Homo sapiens: one gene and its partners. The protein of the gene in region 4 purifies or fractionates together with the protein of the main gene of each other region. This does not show direct contact. Each region holds a gene or a part of one and is shown on either strand. Other genes may lie near its edges.

The links.
Region 1: the proteins of JAZF1 (region 4) and EREG purify together in Homo sapiens (affinity purification with mass spectrometry; one large-scale study listed by BioGRID and IntAct). This does not show direct contact.
Region 2: the proteins of JAZF1 (region 4) and MSH4 purify together in Homo sapiens (affinity purification with mass spectrometry; one large-scale study listed by BioGRID and IntAct). This does not show direct contact.
Region 3: the proteins of JAZF1 (region 4) and EPC1 purify together in Homo sapiens (affinity purification with mass spectrometry; 2 studies listed by BioGRID and IntAct, with this or other methods). This does not show direct contact.

What each region holds. Positions count from the first base shown.
Region 1 is NC_000004.12:74,363,783-74,367,944, reverse strand, and holds the start of EREG (proepiregulin preproprotein), read right to left. Parts: upstream 2,801-4,162; 5' UTR 2,637-2,800; coding exon 2,570-2,636; intron 1-2,569. UniProt on the Homo sapiens protein: Ligand of the EGF receptor/EGFR and ERBB4. Stimulates EGFR and ERBB4 tyrosine phosphorylation.
Region 2 is NC_000001.11:75,880,382-75,883,881, reverse strand, and holds part of MSH4 (mutS protein homolog 4), read right to left. Parts: intron 2,637-3,500; coding exon 2,512-2,636; intron 262-2,511; coding exon 61-261; intron 1-60. UniProt on the Homo sapiens protein: Involved in meiotic recombination. Required for reciprocal recombination and proper segregation of homologous chromosomes at meiosis.
Region 3 is NC_000010.11:32,337,159-32,340,658, forward strand, and holds part of EPC1 (enhancer of polycomb homolog 1), read right to left. Parts: intron 1-3,500. UniProt on the Homo sapiens protein: Component of the NuA4 histone acetyltransferase (HAT) complex, a multiprotein complex involved in transcriptional activation of select genes principally by acetylation of nucleosomal histones H4 and H2A.
Region 4 is NC_000007.14:27,890,796-27,894,295, reverse strand, and holds part of JAZF1 (juxtaposed with another zinc finger protein 1), read left to right. Parts: intron 1-3,500. UniProt on the Homo sapiens protein: Acts as a transcriptional corepressor of orphan nuclear receptor NR2C2. Inhibits expression of the gluconeogenesis enzyme PCK2 through inhibition of NR2C2 activity.

The DNA of each region.
Region 1 (4,162 bases), on a different chromosome or scaffold from region 4:
CTAATACACAACATGGCTGCCACACAGTAGGCATTTAGTAACTGTTAGTTTTCTTCTCAACTCCTGGATTTGGGTCTTAGTGCTGAATCAGACACCCCAATTACCCAAGCTGCTCACATGGCAAGACTGTGCAGAAGGTGGTGAGGGTACCTGGTCAAAATCCAGACAGGAAAGGCCTGTCATCACGTTTTCTGACAAGATTTGTCATCTCAGGTTGTGCCAAGACTCAGGTAACTCATAAACTCTCAGAGTCAACAGAAATGATCAAAGACAAGCCTATTGTCTCATTGAGATTTATGCTCCTCATATTTTCAAAAAAGAATATTTCTTCTGCTTAATTCTCTCTCATTGATGAAGTACGACTAAATTATCTTGGAGATGTCATTCAGGAACATATTCAAAAACCCATGTAGGCATGAATAAAAATGTTTGATGTTAAATAGAAAGCCCCTGAACATAACTGCAGAATTCAACATAAAAATTTATCCTCCTCTCTTTAGAAAAATCACAAGATAAAAAAGACAAAATTCTGCTCTAAAATTATAGATTATTTAAAAAAATGTTATCCGGTATTTCAACTCTTCTACTTAATGTTCAGTAGGCCAAAAATGCTAGCAAGCCCAAGTGTGGACTCTCACTTTGTCACTATTTTTCTATGTGAACTTGGGTCACAGTTCCCCAATTTATAAAACAAGAGCCTCAATATTAAACAAGTGTAAAATTTAAAAGTAACCAAATGATTGTGCATAGCAATTTAAATCTGTATGTGTTAAGGGTGGAGGCTGGAACTTTATTCCCTAGTCATAACTACATAAAGCAGTTATAACATGTATGCTAAAATTTAAAATAAATGTCTCGCTCTTTTTTGCTGGGGGAAGGACAAGATTTGGGAAAAGTATTTTTAGGAAATATTTTGTTTGGGGGAAAGAAGGCAATTTCAGAAATAACAGGTGGTCTTGCCAAAATAAGGCTATGGGCTCTGCATAACTGAATAGAGTTTAGAGATATAATACAGAACTTGAAACAGGAACTTTCCTAGTGGCAGAGAAATATCCAAACAAACTGGGAAAACAGAAACTGACCTAACTCATTTGGAAATGGGCTTGGCAGCTGACGAAATAGATGAACTATAATTAAGTAATGCAATGAAGGAGGTAAGCACTTTCATGACAACAAACACACACACAACACACACACTAGTGGGTAGTAACCAGGTTATTCACAGGCTCTGGCTGTCTCAAATTAGAATATTCAATGAAACACCCAGAACAGACATGTGCATTGTTCAGATGCAACCTTACATGTGGGGAAAATAATAAGTGCTAAGTTATTCTGACCTCGAGGTTAATTTCTAACTCTAGGAAGACTGTCACCTTTCTAATTTAATTCTTTTCAAAACAAAGACAGCAAAGCCACATTGTTTACTGAGAATCTTCTAGCAAGTCTTTCTTAGCTCAGTTTTGGCAGAAACCACATATCTAGTTTCCACTTGTGTTCCTGGACTTAGACTTGTAAGTTTCAATTATGCATAGTATGCATTTCATTAGGTCTCTCAACCCCTGAGATAAGGTGTGCCAAAATAATAATTTAACAGTCACATCCTTCACAGGTAGAGTTAGAGTGTCTGGGGAATCAGCCTCATTCCAACTCCAGGGAGAATATGAGACTGGTGGTAACTTTTATTTTTTTATTAAGATATTCATATACGACTTCAAACTCTTTCAAATTCCTTAAACTGAAGTTTAAGGAATTGGAAAGAAGTAATTTTTTTTTAACAGAAAGGCTATTTAGAAAATTTTTCCCCTTGAACTAAATCATCTCAAATAGGAAGACTGGCATTTAAATACCCTCAGCGATCACAGGCTATGGAGTGCAATTAGCAGCAAGTGCAGAACGCTTGCTCCAGAGGCTGCTTGGGAGGCTGCAGGGAAAAACGCAAGCAGCAGGTGTAGGGGCGAAGGGCGGTGGGGAGCGCCAGGACCTGCCCAGGGCCCTTCTGCTCCAGATACCCTCGACCAGTGTTTTATTTCTCTTGTGTCTGGAGCTCAGCCAACTGGCACTGGCGCATACCAGCTCCTCCGGGAAAGCTAAACCAGGCTAGGTTTTAGAAAACTGAGCGCAAGACAGAGGAGAAAAGCTTTTTCCCCCCTCCAAAAAATTTCTTACGCTAGTTTCTATTCCCCACTCTCCAACAAAAAGGAACAAGACATGAAATGTTAACAGTGCGTTCCAGGCCTTTAGATTTCTAGGACTGGCAACTTTTCAAAAAAAAAAAAAAAGCTTTTTCAACAACTTTTTATTTTGTTTAATAAGGAGATATTTCAATCCATGCATAACATATATGCCAATAATTAATTCACCAATAAAAAGCATTTTAACATCGATCCCCAGTCCCCCCCACCCCAGTCCCACCATAGGGGAAGACAGACTCACAAAACAAGACGTAATTTTAAATAGAGCACACTTGAACCTGGAGACAACTCCGTACTTGTCGAATGACAAATGCACAGGAGCCTTCCTTATTTGTCTCCTCTTTGGGGCGGCCGGAAGCCAGAGGGGGAGAACTTACCCAGGCAGAGCAGCAGCGCAGGGACCCTGCCGGCACAGAGCATCTCCATCCTCCTCCCCGCGGTCATCGGCGATGGGAGCGGGCGCTGGGGCTTGGCGGAGGGCGGCTGCGGAGAGTGCACGGGCAGGGCGGGAGCAGACGGGCTCGCGGCAGTGGCTGGAGAGCGGCTGTCAGCCTAGAAGGGACCCCACGTTGGCTGTGTCCCTCTGACACTGGAAATATCAGGCAAGTGAGCTCAACTGTCTGGTGCTGCGAACTTTATACTAGGGAGCCCCTCCCGGGCCCTAACGGGGTGAGGTCAAGAGTGCCCAGAGTTTCATAATTGGCCCGAGGGAGGAGCGGCAGGAGGACCGTCAGGAAGTCATCCTCCCTCCCTGGAGCACCTGAGAGTAGTGGTTGAGGAATGAAAAAATGTCTTTCCGATTGGCCGGGGACTACTCCCGAAACTTTTCCATCTCCCTCCGGGAGGTGGGGAGCGTGGACCAGATGGCTTGGTTTGCTTTGTGGGGTCACCTGCCCTGTAGTGGGTGGTTTTGGTTGCTCAGGGTGACGGACATAACTTGAATCAGTCTTTTAGCCAAGGCTGGCGTTCCCCATACATGCCTTTGGAGAGCTGTGCGTGTGACTTACTAACCTCAGCCACGAAAACTCCCTTAACTTGAAGTCTGTCAGTGATTCAAGCGCCCTCCTTGCATTGAAACGCCACCGCCCAGAAAAGCCTTTCCCATCTGCGCCTTCCTTCTGAGACCCCTGCTTCCAATGTGGCTCAGGCATTTATTACCTCAAAGTCGAGTCATTGTGAAGAAAATTCCTGTTATTTTTTTTCCTTCTGTCGTATTTGCCATTTGTCAGGTTGCTGCTTTTGATATGACTTCCTACTAAGTAGTGCCTTAATCCTGTCGCTCCCCTGCACAAAACCTTTCAACGACTTCCTATTGCTTTTTGGACAAGGCCTGCCACAAACGTGAAGCCAATCGGTCTTTTCAACCTCAGCTCCCACTATTTCCCCAGGCAAATTGTCTGACCCCAGCCAGGCTGGAAAACTCTAAGCCTTTCCTCACTCCCACTTTCCTGCCTATGCTGATGGAGTCGTACTTTGAGGCAATGGCTACTTTTTAAAGGAATTAGTGAAATCCTGCTCAAATTCATGGTTCTCCTCAAGGGCCTGGGCTTCTTAGGCTTGTGGATCTCTTTTCATTCTGATCTCTTATAGCTTTTGTCGTTTATCTTCTCCCTAGCCTCATAGAATTCTAGACCCGGTACTTTACACCTGGGAAAGCTACTTTGTATTCCTTGACTTTTTTTTTGTTTGTAAGTCCTATGTTCAGCTCTGTACTGTGTAAATTGTCTTCCTTTTCACTGCACTCCTCTATAGGACCTAAGAACTGTGAGTCAATTCAGCAGTACTGTATGTAAATATACATATTTGAATAGAAAATGGAATCTAATGGATGTTAACTCCTTACCTTTTTATTTCTACTTTTTAAAAAATTATTATTACTATTCCTTTTTTTTTTCTGGCTTTTTTCTCTCATACTCTAAGGCCCTTTAATGTCCAGAATGCTCTTGTTAGAAACAAATACTTCGGCCGGG
Region 2 (3,500 bases), on a different chromosome or scaffold from region 4:
GGCACAAAGCATTCTGAAAAGAGTGTAAAACTGGTCATTATAAATAAAGCCATAACTTACCAATCTGGGCCATAATCTGACAAAGAGCAATCTGTTTTAAATATGTGGATTTTCCACTCATGTTTGGTCCAGTTATGATCAAAAAATTACTCCCTTCTGTAACATAGGTATTGTTGGCAATAGGTTTTTCCGCAGATATTTTTTCAAGAATAGGATGCCATCCCTGTTTGATTGCTAAAGTATCAGTAAATTCTGGTCGAACTTAAGAAAAAAAATAGAATGGTTTTTAAAGATTAATATATTTGTGTCTAAAGATTTTGTAGTGTGTATGTATTGTCTATATCTTAGTGATTTTCACACTGGTCAATTTGGAATAATAACATTAAGGTACTATATTATCCCAAATCCCCACCCAAATTCTTCTAAATTATAATGGACACACTCTAATCACTATCACAACTTTTATTCACTTCTAGAGAACTCTAGAATTTAGTTCTTTACCACTGTCCTGAGCTCCAAAATAGTTTATAAAATTTTCAGCTTTTTGTAGATTAAAAAGAACCAAGCAGACCAGGCGTGATGGCTCATGCTGGTAATCCCAGCATTTGGGAGGCGGAGGAGGGCAGATTGCTTGATTGCTTGAGCTCAGGAGTTCAAGACCAGCCTAGGCAACATGGTCAAACCCTATCTCTACAAAAAAAAAAAAAAAATTAGCCAGGTGTAATGGCTCATGCCTGTAGTCCCAGCTACTTGTGGGGTTGAGATAGGAGGATCTCTTGAGCCTGGGAGGTGAAGACTGCAGTGAGCTGAGATTGTGCCACTGCACTCCAGCCTGGCTGACAAAGTGAGTCTCTGTCTCAAAAAAAAATAAAAATAAAAATAAAAAAGAACCAAGTACTCATTGATTGTACTTTAAAAATCATAGTTGGTTACTGGTAATACAGAGTTGCATATTTACTTACTCTACCTTAAACACTACTTCCCTACTTTAATATTATTTCAAATTTGGTACGCTTAGCATTTATTTATGTATTTATTAGAGACAGGGTCTTGGTCTATCACCCAGGCTGGAATACGGTGGCAAAATCATAGCTTATTGCAGCCTCAAACTCCTGGGCTCAAGCCATCCTCCTGCCTGCCTCAGCCTTTCAAGAAGCTGGGAGTACAGGCACCTGCCACCACTTCTCACCGATTTTTTTTTTTTTTTTTTTTTTTTTTAGAAATGAGGTCTAGCTATGTTGCCCAGGCTGGTTTCAAACACCTAGCTCATAAGTTGAGGTATGATTATAGAATAAAATCAAATATAAAAATAATTCTTTCTAAGCCCATGGAGAAATTTTGTATAAAAGGAAATTTCAGAGAATGAGAATAGAGAAGATCAACACAAATAATCTGCTAATCTATAGAAATAAATAAGGATCAGGTCTCTATGGATACCACCTGAAGTGGGGGGAGGAGGAAGAGGGTGAAAGCATATGTGAAAACCAAAATGTTCCATACCTTTATCTAAAATGCATAAACTTGAAAACATTCATCATAAAAGTGAGGTTAGAAAAAAAATTTTAAGTATTTTCAAAAATTCATTATTTATAGATATGGAGTTTCAGAATGATCCTTCTCAAACTAAAATGAAGCAAGACTAAATCTCTTAATAGTTTAAAAACAAAACTACCATTGGAATATCTGACCCCTAAAGTAGAGTTTTGATGCAAAGGAGATATAAAAGTTTGAAAAGTTTTGGCCTATAAAATACCAATAGAAAAAGTTAATATTTCCATAAGAAATATGAAAAAATCTTAAGATACATCCCATAAAAGTAAATTAACATAACATTTTAGAAATTTTACTGCTGATTTACATTAGAAATTTCAATGTTTTTAATGTAATGAAGTCTACAATTATTCAACCATAATTATCACATACTAGTCCAGTAAATTTGCATACTGGAGTATGGTTATTACTGGTAAGTTAGATAAGAAATGTCAAAGCACTAACTCGAAGTATTCATTTAACATGAGAAAATTACTTAACATTTATATTCATGGCCTTTTTATAGACTTGGGATATAAAAATAAATTACATAATTCCTAATTTTGGTATGTTCACATCTAAAGAGCTAGTGGATTAAAATGCTCACTCTGGAGATGCATTTCTCTCTATTAACGTTTATCACGCTGCTTCTAATAAGTATTCAGATTTGAACTTTATAAATTTAGATCACTGTCATTTTTACCAAGGAGACAGCTCTTACAGTCTTTCTTATTTGGGGAATCTTTAGTTTCTTGCAATTTTTTCTTTTTGGTTTGCCAATTTCTGAGAGAATAATTTTTACTTCAAAAAAAATTTTAAGGGTAATCTCACTTTCTTTATTTTGTGTCTTAGTCTAGGACCAGAGGCAAGAGACTCTATTTCAAGTTAAAAATTTTAAATGTCATAACTATTATATCAAATTGTTTGAATCGAATACAAATTTAACTATGCAATATGTTTATTCCAAAGAAAGCAACTTACCATAGTCAGAAAGAGTGCAGGCATGAGCAAATGACAGTAGCATATCCAGCATTGACACAGTGTCAGATAGTTTATATAAGCAATGAATATGTTCATAAATCTCACTAAGCAGTTTGCACACTATCCTGAAAACACGTTTGGTAAGACATGTAATAATGTTTTTTCAAAAGGGACATACATTGTAATCGTAAAATAATATTAAATTCATTGCCTGAAGTAAAATAATATTCACATCTGAGTTATACACTATAGATAAAGCCTATTGTTCATCTGTCTCATTTTAGAGATGAGGAAATTGAAGTTTTTGCTCAAGATCACAGCTACTTAGTGGCAAAGAATCTATCTTCTTGTGTATTAACATAACATTTTTGAAATAACTGCTTTTATATGATATTAATAAAATAAGTTTTTATTATTAAGAATATTTGATATAGGTCAAATCAAGCCCTCATTATACTTGGAAAGATCCCATTTGCTAATCACTTTGTGAATTTGCAAATGTTAAGTTCAACACAAAAACTATATGCATTTTCTCTCTCATCCATTTTTTCTTTCTCTCTCGTTCTTGTTCTCTCACTCACACACATGCACACAGACACAATATCTGAATAATATAATTATTTAAGTTTTTATAAGGCAGAGTTATACTGTGATATAGTGCAAAAAGTTTTTCTCTTGCAAAGATAAATATGTACCCAAAACTTACTATATATTAAAATGTTGGTGGTACATGCCTTGAAATTGTCTTGAAAGCCCAACCTTTCTCTTTATTACTTCAGCCTAATAAGTGTTCTAAATCTTCTACTTCTTCTTTCTGGCTGTATTGCTACTATTTCATGACCAGCAAAAGAACTGACACTATTGTGATATTGCTATTGAATTATTAATATCAAGGTATAAGAAGCTGAGGACTTACAGACCATAGGAAAATAATAAACTGAACGAAGCCCAGGTAAGCCCCTGATGTGCCAAGTTCTACATCATGGTAG
Region 3 (3,500 bases), on a different chromosome or scaffold from region 4:
CTAGTACTCAATCTTTGTTAGGGCAAGTCCAGAACAGTCTTTAGAACTAATCTGGCCTCGGCCTCACTACTGAGACAATAACCCTTCTGAGGGTTCTACTTGATACGCTGTGTATTGAGGCCTTTCCATTCTGGTTAGTGGGAATGTGTAGCACAGTCTCAGCCCTATGAGCTTCCCAAACTGTTCTTTCTTTCCTCTTGCTTTTCCCTAGACTTGGAAGTTCCTCATGGACAGGATCAGATCAGTTTTCAGCTAGACACTCGAAGGGACACCCTGTGAATATCTGGAGCTCTTTTTCTGTGCAGCCCTGGTACTCTGCTCCAAAGTCACTTAGGCCTCCCCACACTCTGAATTCTGTTTCTTCAACTGAAGGAGCTGCCACATCTGTTTGGAATTTCCCATCCCTGTGCTGCAATCTGAAAACTCTCAAGGCAGTGAAGTGGGTCAATCTAGGGCTCAGCTTCATTTGTTTCCTTCATTTGTGCCTGATGGAACTTTGTAACTAATTTTTAAAAGAAATCATTTGCTGATCTGGGAGCCTCCTCCAGCTACTCCAGCCCTGTTTTTTTCTCTCTTTCATAGCAGAGCTATTCCAAAGAGTTGACTATACTTGCTATGTCCCCTTTTTCATCTTCTATTATTTCTTCTACTCCAGCTGGGCTTTCCTTCTCACCACTCCACCAAAACATGCCAATGGCACATATCTAATTAAATTACTTTCCCATACTTTCATCTTCTCAGTGGACATAGTTAACCAATGTCCTTCCTTCTTGAGATGCTTTTATTCTAAAAATGAAGAAAATCTTTTCAGTAGCTCCTCCTCTGAGTCCCAGAGCACAGCATTCCATGCGATTCATAAGCTGAAGACTCTCAGATTTATAGGACCAACTCATGACTTCCAAATTATACACTTCTAGCACAAACTGCTCTAATGTGCATATTCTCACATATCCAATCAGGACGAAAGAGGCACATTTCAAACTGAACAAGTCCATCCCTTCTACATCCCCCACCCCTAACTGTCCCTTCCCTGTAAGAGGCCCACTCATCTATCCAGCTGCTCAACTTGGAGGTTCATCCTCGGATTCTCTCTCTCCATCTAGTACATTCAAATCCACCAGCAAGTTCTGTTGGTTCTGGCTCCTCAAAATATATCTCAAATCCATCCATTTCTCTTCATTTCCACTAGCACCAACCCTACTTAAAGCCACCATCATCACTCTTGCCCAGTATGACTCATTCTCCACATGGTAGCCAGAATAATCTTGAAAAACCATTAAATCAGATCATGTCACTCCCTTAAACTCGCTAATAGCTTACTTCATTTCAACACAGTCAAAACTTCTCATGGTAGCCTAACAATCCCTTCCTGATCTGGATCGTGAGTACGTATGTGTCCTCATCTCCTAATCTACAACCCCCTGCTCACTCTGCTCTGAGTACAATGGCCTCCTGTTTCAGCTCAGGCTCTGTGCACCTGTAGGTCTCTCTGGATTATTCCTCATGCAGATCTTCCCACGGCTCATTACCACCACTCAAGTTTCAGGCCACATGTTTCCTAACCACCTACCCAAAGAAAATTATCCTTCTCCTTCTAACTAAAATTCTGTAGTATCTTGTTCCACTGCCACATAAGAACATATGGTGGCATCCTCCTGGAGTTTCAGCTACTCAGGAGGCTGAGGTGGGAGGAGCCTGGAGCCCAGGAGGCTGAGGCTGCAATGAGCCGAGATCACACCACTACACTCCAGCCTGGGCAACAGAGGGAGACCTTGTCTCAAAAAAAATAAATAAATAAATAAATAAAATAATAAAAATAATAATAAATTCTGGCTCTAATCTCAAATTCTCATGACAATAAAAGTTATTTTCTGACTACTGCATCCAATTACATCTTTAAATCCTTTAGAGACTGGCTTTTAGAACTTGACCCTTCTTAAACTGGAACCAACTATCCATGCACCTTTACTTCCATGCAAATTATGTCTACATAATATGCAAATGAGATTAACTCAAGATTTAATGACTATTCTCTAAACACATAAAATTCTTTTGGAAACAGATTTAAATATAATGGCAACAGAATATTCTCATTACAACAGGAAACTACCATAGGCCTACTGCATCTTACAGTCAAGAAAACCTGGGGCATGTGGAAGCAGAGCTAGAGGCTAGAGTAAGGCCTTACATCTAGTAACTCCGAGTTTGATGCTTTTTCCTATTAATAATTACCTAAATTAGCTGGGCATGGTGGCACACACCTGTAGCCCCAGCTACTCAGGAGGCTGAGGCACGAGAATCGCTTGAATCTGGGAGGTGGAGGTGGCAATGAGCCGAGATCATGCCACTGCACTCCAGCCTGGGTGACAGAGTGAACTCTCTCTCAATAGTAATAATAATAATAACAACCTAAGTTAAAATACATAGTTTTTCACAATCATATCATACAACTCTCTAAGGACACAAAATACATCTAACACTTTTATGTCACACAATCCCAAATACAAAATATAATGTTAAGTATCTTCTGAGAACAAAAAGCAAGGCCGTTCTAAAAATTCTATTAGTGTTTGGTAATAATGAAATTCATCTGTACATGATTTTTCATACACTGCCTTATTCACTCCTCAGAGCTATTTTGTAAGGTAGCTCAGAAGACTTAAGAAATGCAGAGACTAAAGTTCTTTCAGTGACGTTAAGTGACTTGTCAATGGATACAAAATCAAGGTAGGGAAAGTTTCCTTAGGATACACAATTGCTATTTGGATGCTCAGAGGATATACAATTGCTACATTATCAAAATAGTTCATCCCAATATATAAAAAGATTAGAACCTATATTAAATCATTCACAGGACATTTTAAACCTCAGGTCATGTTTGCCCCTAGATTCACTCTAAGGTCACATCCAATTTCTTCAGTCAGTACTTGCTATACTGAGGGAAATTCAACCAAAACGATTTGCTTAAATAATCTGCTTTGCAATTCAGCAAGTGATTATCACAACACATATCCAAAAACTGAACCAAAACTTTAAAGATAACCTCCATTACAACAAATACTTGAGGGAGGGCTTTATCTTTTAAAAAATTGATTGTATCTGCATTGATCAAAGCTACACCTCAGATAACATATTATAGTAGATGTAATAAGTACAGCAAGTTTGCTTTTGTTTTTCATATACCTATTACAGCAGGGTTGGTAGATGGAATTCACTTCATATATTTAAAGGTGCAAAGTTGAGTGTCCACTATATTTAAAATACTGTAAGAACTCAAAATCACTACCTATTATTACAGGATTTAATACACCTAATCAAGAAAGATTTTCTACAGTTTATAAATGTGTTGAAGGCAACAGTTAGCATCAATAAATTAAAAGCAATTCTAGGGCCAGGTGCAGTGGTTCTCGCCTATAATCTCAGCACTTTGGGAGACCAAGGTGGGTGGATCACTTGAGCCCAAGAGTTTGAGAACAGCCCAGGCAACATGGTGAATATTT
Region 4 (3,500 bases):
TTTGGGAGGCTGAGGCAGGAGGATCACCTGAGGCCAGGATTTCAAGACCAGCCTGGGCGAAATGGCATTTTGAATGCCTCACAAGTGCCAGAAACTGAGCTACTGAGGTGAGCAGAGAGAGGCCCCCTGCCCTGACCTCAGGAGCTTACACCTGTTGGAGGATATTGGCATTCTAGGGGCCAAACAAGATCACTCTTGTCTTCCTCTCCCAAGTGTGGAAATGATTAAAAAGTAAAATAGCAGTCATAGACGAAGAACAAAATATCAACTGTATTATTACATAAAGCTAAACCACAGAATGGAGCTTGGATCTGTAACAATTGGGCTTCCTAGTATGTCTTCCCAGAATTCAATTTATTTCCCAAAGTGCACTTCTCAGCTTACCCCAGGGTGGTAGCTGACCAGAGCGCACTCTGGACCCTGAGCAGAGCGTGCCCAGCCCTTCTTCCCTAGTTCATGCTTCATTAAGTCACTGTTCCTCCTTGGGCAGGAGTGAATAGAGATGGTGGAAGAGGTCCGCATGTTTGTGCTGTCTGAGAAACAGAGAAATAGCTCTCTTCCCCCAGTGGGAGTATAGACCGTCACTAATCAAATCAATACGCAAATAAATATAACCCTGTAATCATGACAAGTGCTATATAGAATTCTGTGATAGGAGGGCATCCGGAGAGAAGTTTGACCCAGTCAGGAAAGGCTTCCTTTGAAAGATAAATAGGAGTCAACTAAGTAAAGAGGAAAGGGGGAGCAATGTCACAAAGGGAACATTCTGCAAAGGCTCCATGGAGGGGGACAGCCTGGCAGGTCCCCATTACTGAAAGGCCAGGTGGCCCGAGTGTAAGATGAGACTGAGGAGGTAGGCGGGGACTAGGGCACTGGGGGTCTTATTCAAAATTTTGGTTGAATCGAAGAGCAAAGAGAACCCACTTGTAACCACACCATCATCTCCTTAGCCATGATTAAAATTATCTTCTCTGACAGTTTACGTATTTCTCTGTCATCCATTTTCCATTGTGCAAAGTGTGTTTCAGAATACTAACTTCACAAAATACTAGTTGGGGAAAAGGGATTTCCTAGTAAGTTTGGGGAGATGATGAGTTAGACAAAGTTAAATGGATTTCTTTAATTCGGGGCTTTAATATGCACTGTTAGTCTCCAAGGGGAGGATTTAGTAAATTTCCCAAACTTAGTTGCTCTGATTAGGGGACCTCTTTCTTTATGGGGCATCTCAGGGGACTCATGGTTGACAGACACCGTGTGTTCAATCAGGATTGAACATTTTGAAGACAGATTAGGTATGGGAGATAAACCAGAGTTGCTGCCTTAACTTCTTTCTTTACAAATGGTGTCACCTTGGGCAAGTCACTAATACCCATTATATAGATTTTTTGTCAAAGTTAAATGTGATAGCACATGTATAACACAGTGCTCAATAAATGTTCATTTCTTTCATCTGGGGTTTTCAACTTTGTATTTTAGGAACAGAATCAAGGTCATGCTTCTAGAGGACAAACCAGTTCATTTGTGTTAGGCATTTGTCCATTTCCTTGAATAGACCACCATGTTTCCCTTATATTTTATTTTGTGAAGATTGACTTTCCAGGATCTTTTTGTAACATTTATGTTGTAAATCTAAGGAATGAAAGAGAGTGTAGTGTAATTCCGCAATCCTCTTTTCTGGGTATTGCTATGATACTTATTCACATATAATATGAATTATGGGAACAGTTTCCCATTGGCTGTGTTTTATACCTGAAGTAATATGGACTGACTCATGTCCAACCCCAGATAACTGTGACTGCCCCAATTAGTGACGGGTGCCTAGGACCCCATGAAAATAAAGACAGTTTAAAAGTGAGAGTTTATTATTTTTCATGTAAGAATGTTTGGAAGAAATGGAATCATTTCCCTTCCTTCAGACATAAAGAAATCTTTCTGACACCTTGCCTATTTTAGCAATTTCCCATTGAGAGAATTAATTTATGTTGTGGTAAAGATGTATCATTTTCAGTCTGTCAAGATTATTGGTAAGTTATTTGCTGCTGTAAGAACATTCCATGTAAACATCAAAAATTAGCAGGGGAAATGGTTTCTTAAACCCCTACCACGTACAATTTTGATTGTGTACATTTTTCAATGTTTGGAATGTTATTTTACCTGTAGTTAGAGAGATCAGCTTATTTTGCCTGACTAATGTGGTTTCAGTCACTTTCATTGCCAGGTTATAAAATTCCACATTTCTACCCCTTAAATTCACTCTTGCAAGTTCTATATTCATGGTGCATTCCCACTTCAGAAGTAATAGTCATCTTGTAGGAACTTCATTTATAAAATGTTCTTTAAGGTATACTTTCTTGACAATACTGAATTAGAGCTCAGCTTTATCCTAAAGTTTCGAGTATTTCTTAGGTATAGTTGGAATCAATGTTTGTTTTGCAATTTTTTTTCTTTTCTGTTTGAAACAGGGTCTTACTGTATCACTCTATCACCTAGGCTGGAGTGCAGTGATGCTATCATAGCTCACTGCAGCCTCAAACTCCTGGGCTCAGCCTCCTGTGTAGCTCACGTCAGCCTCCTGTGTAGCTGGGACTACAGGCACATGCCACAATGCCCACTTAATTTTTTGACTTTTTTTGTAGAGATGAGGTCTTGCTATGTTGCCCAGGCTGGTCTTGAACTCTTGGCCTCAAGCAATCCTCCTGCCTCTGCCTCCCAAAACTCTGTGATTACAGGCAGGGGCCACCATATATGGCCTGTTTTGCCATTTTTACATCCTAGAAGAATCTTTTTCTCTCATTGTTTTCCTTTCCTATCCTTGTCTTTTTTTCTTTTAATATATAGAAAAAGTATTCATTTAAGAAAAGCTTAGAATAGTTTAAATCATAGATCAGCAAACTTTTTCTATAAAGGTCCATATAGTAAATATGCTTTGCAGGCCACAGGGTCTCTGTTTCAGCTACTCAACTTTGCCATTGTAATGTGCAAGCAGCTATAGAACCACCTAAATTAATGGGCATGTTGTGTTTTATTAAAAGTTTTTCTAAAACTTTATGTACAAAAACAGGCCAGAGTTGGCCCATAGGCCACAGTTTTCCAACCCCTGGTTTACATAATAGAGAAATGGAATTGAAAAATAAATGTGATTAAATTATCTGAAAATAAAGTGTTAAGATAATTCATACCCTTCTCCTTTTAAAAGTAGTAACATGGGCCAGGCACGGTCGCTCACGCCTGTAATCCCAGCACTTTGGGAGGCAGAGGCAGGCGAATCACTTGAGGTCAGGAGTTCGAGATGAGCCTGGCCAACATGGTGAAACCCCATCTCTACCAAAAATATAAAGATTTGCCAAGTGTGGTGGCTCACGCCTGTAATCCCAGCTACTTGGGAGGTTGAGGCAGGAGAATTGCTTGAACCTGGGAGGTGGAGGTTGCGGTGAGCCGAGATTGCACCACTGCACTACAGCCTGGGTGACAGAGCAAGACTTCATCTCAAAAAAAAAAAA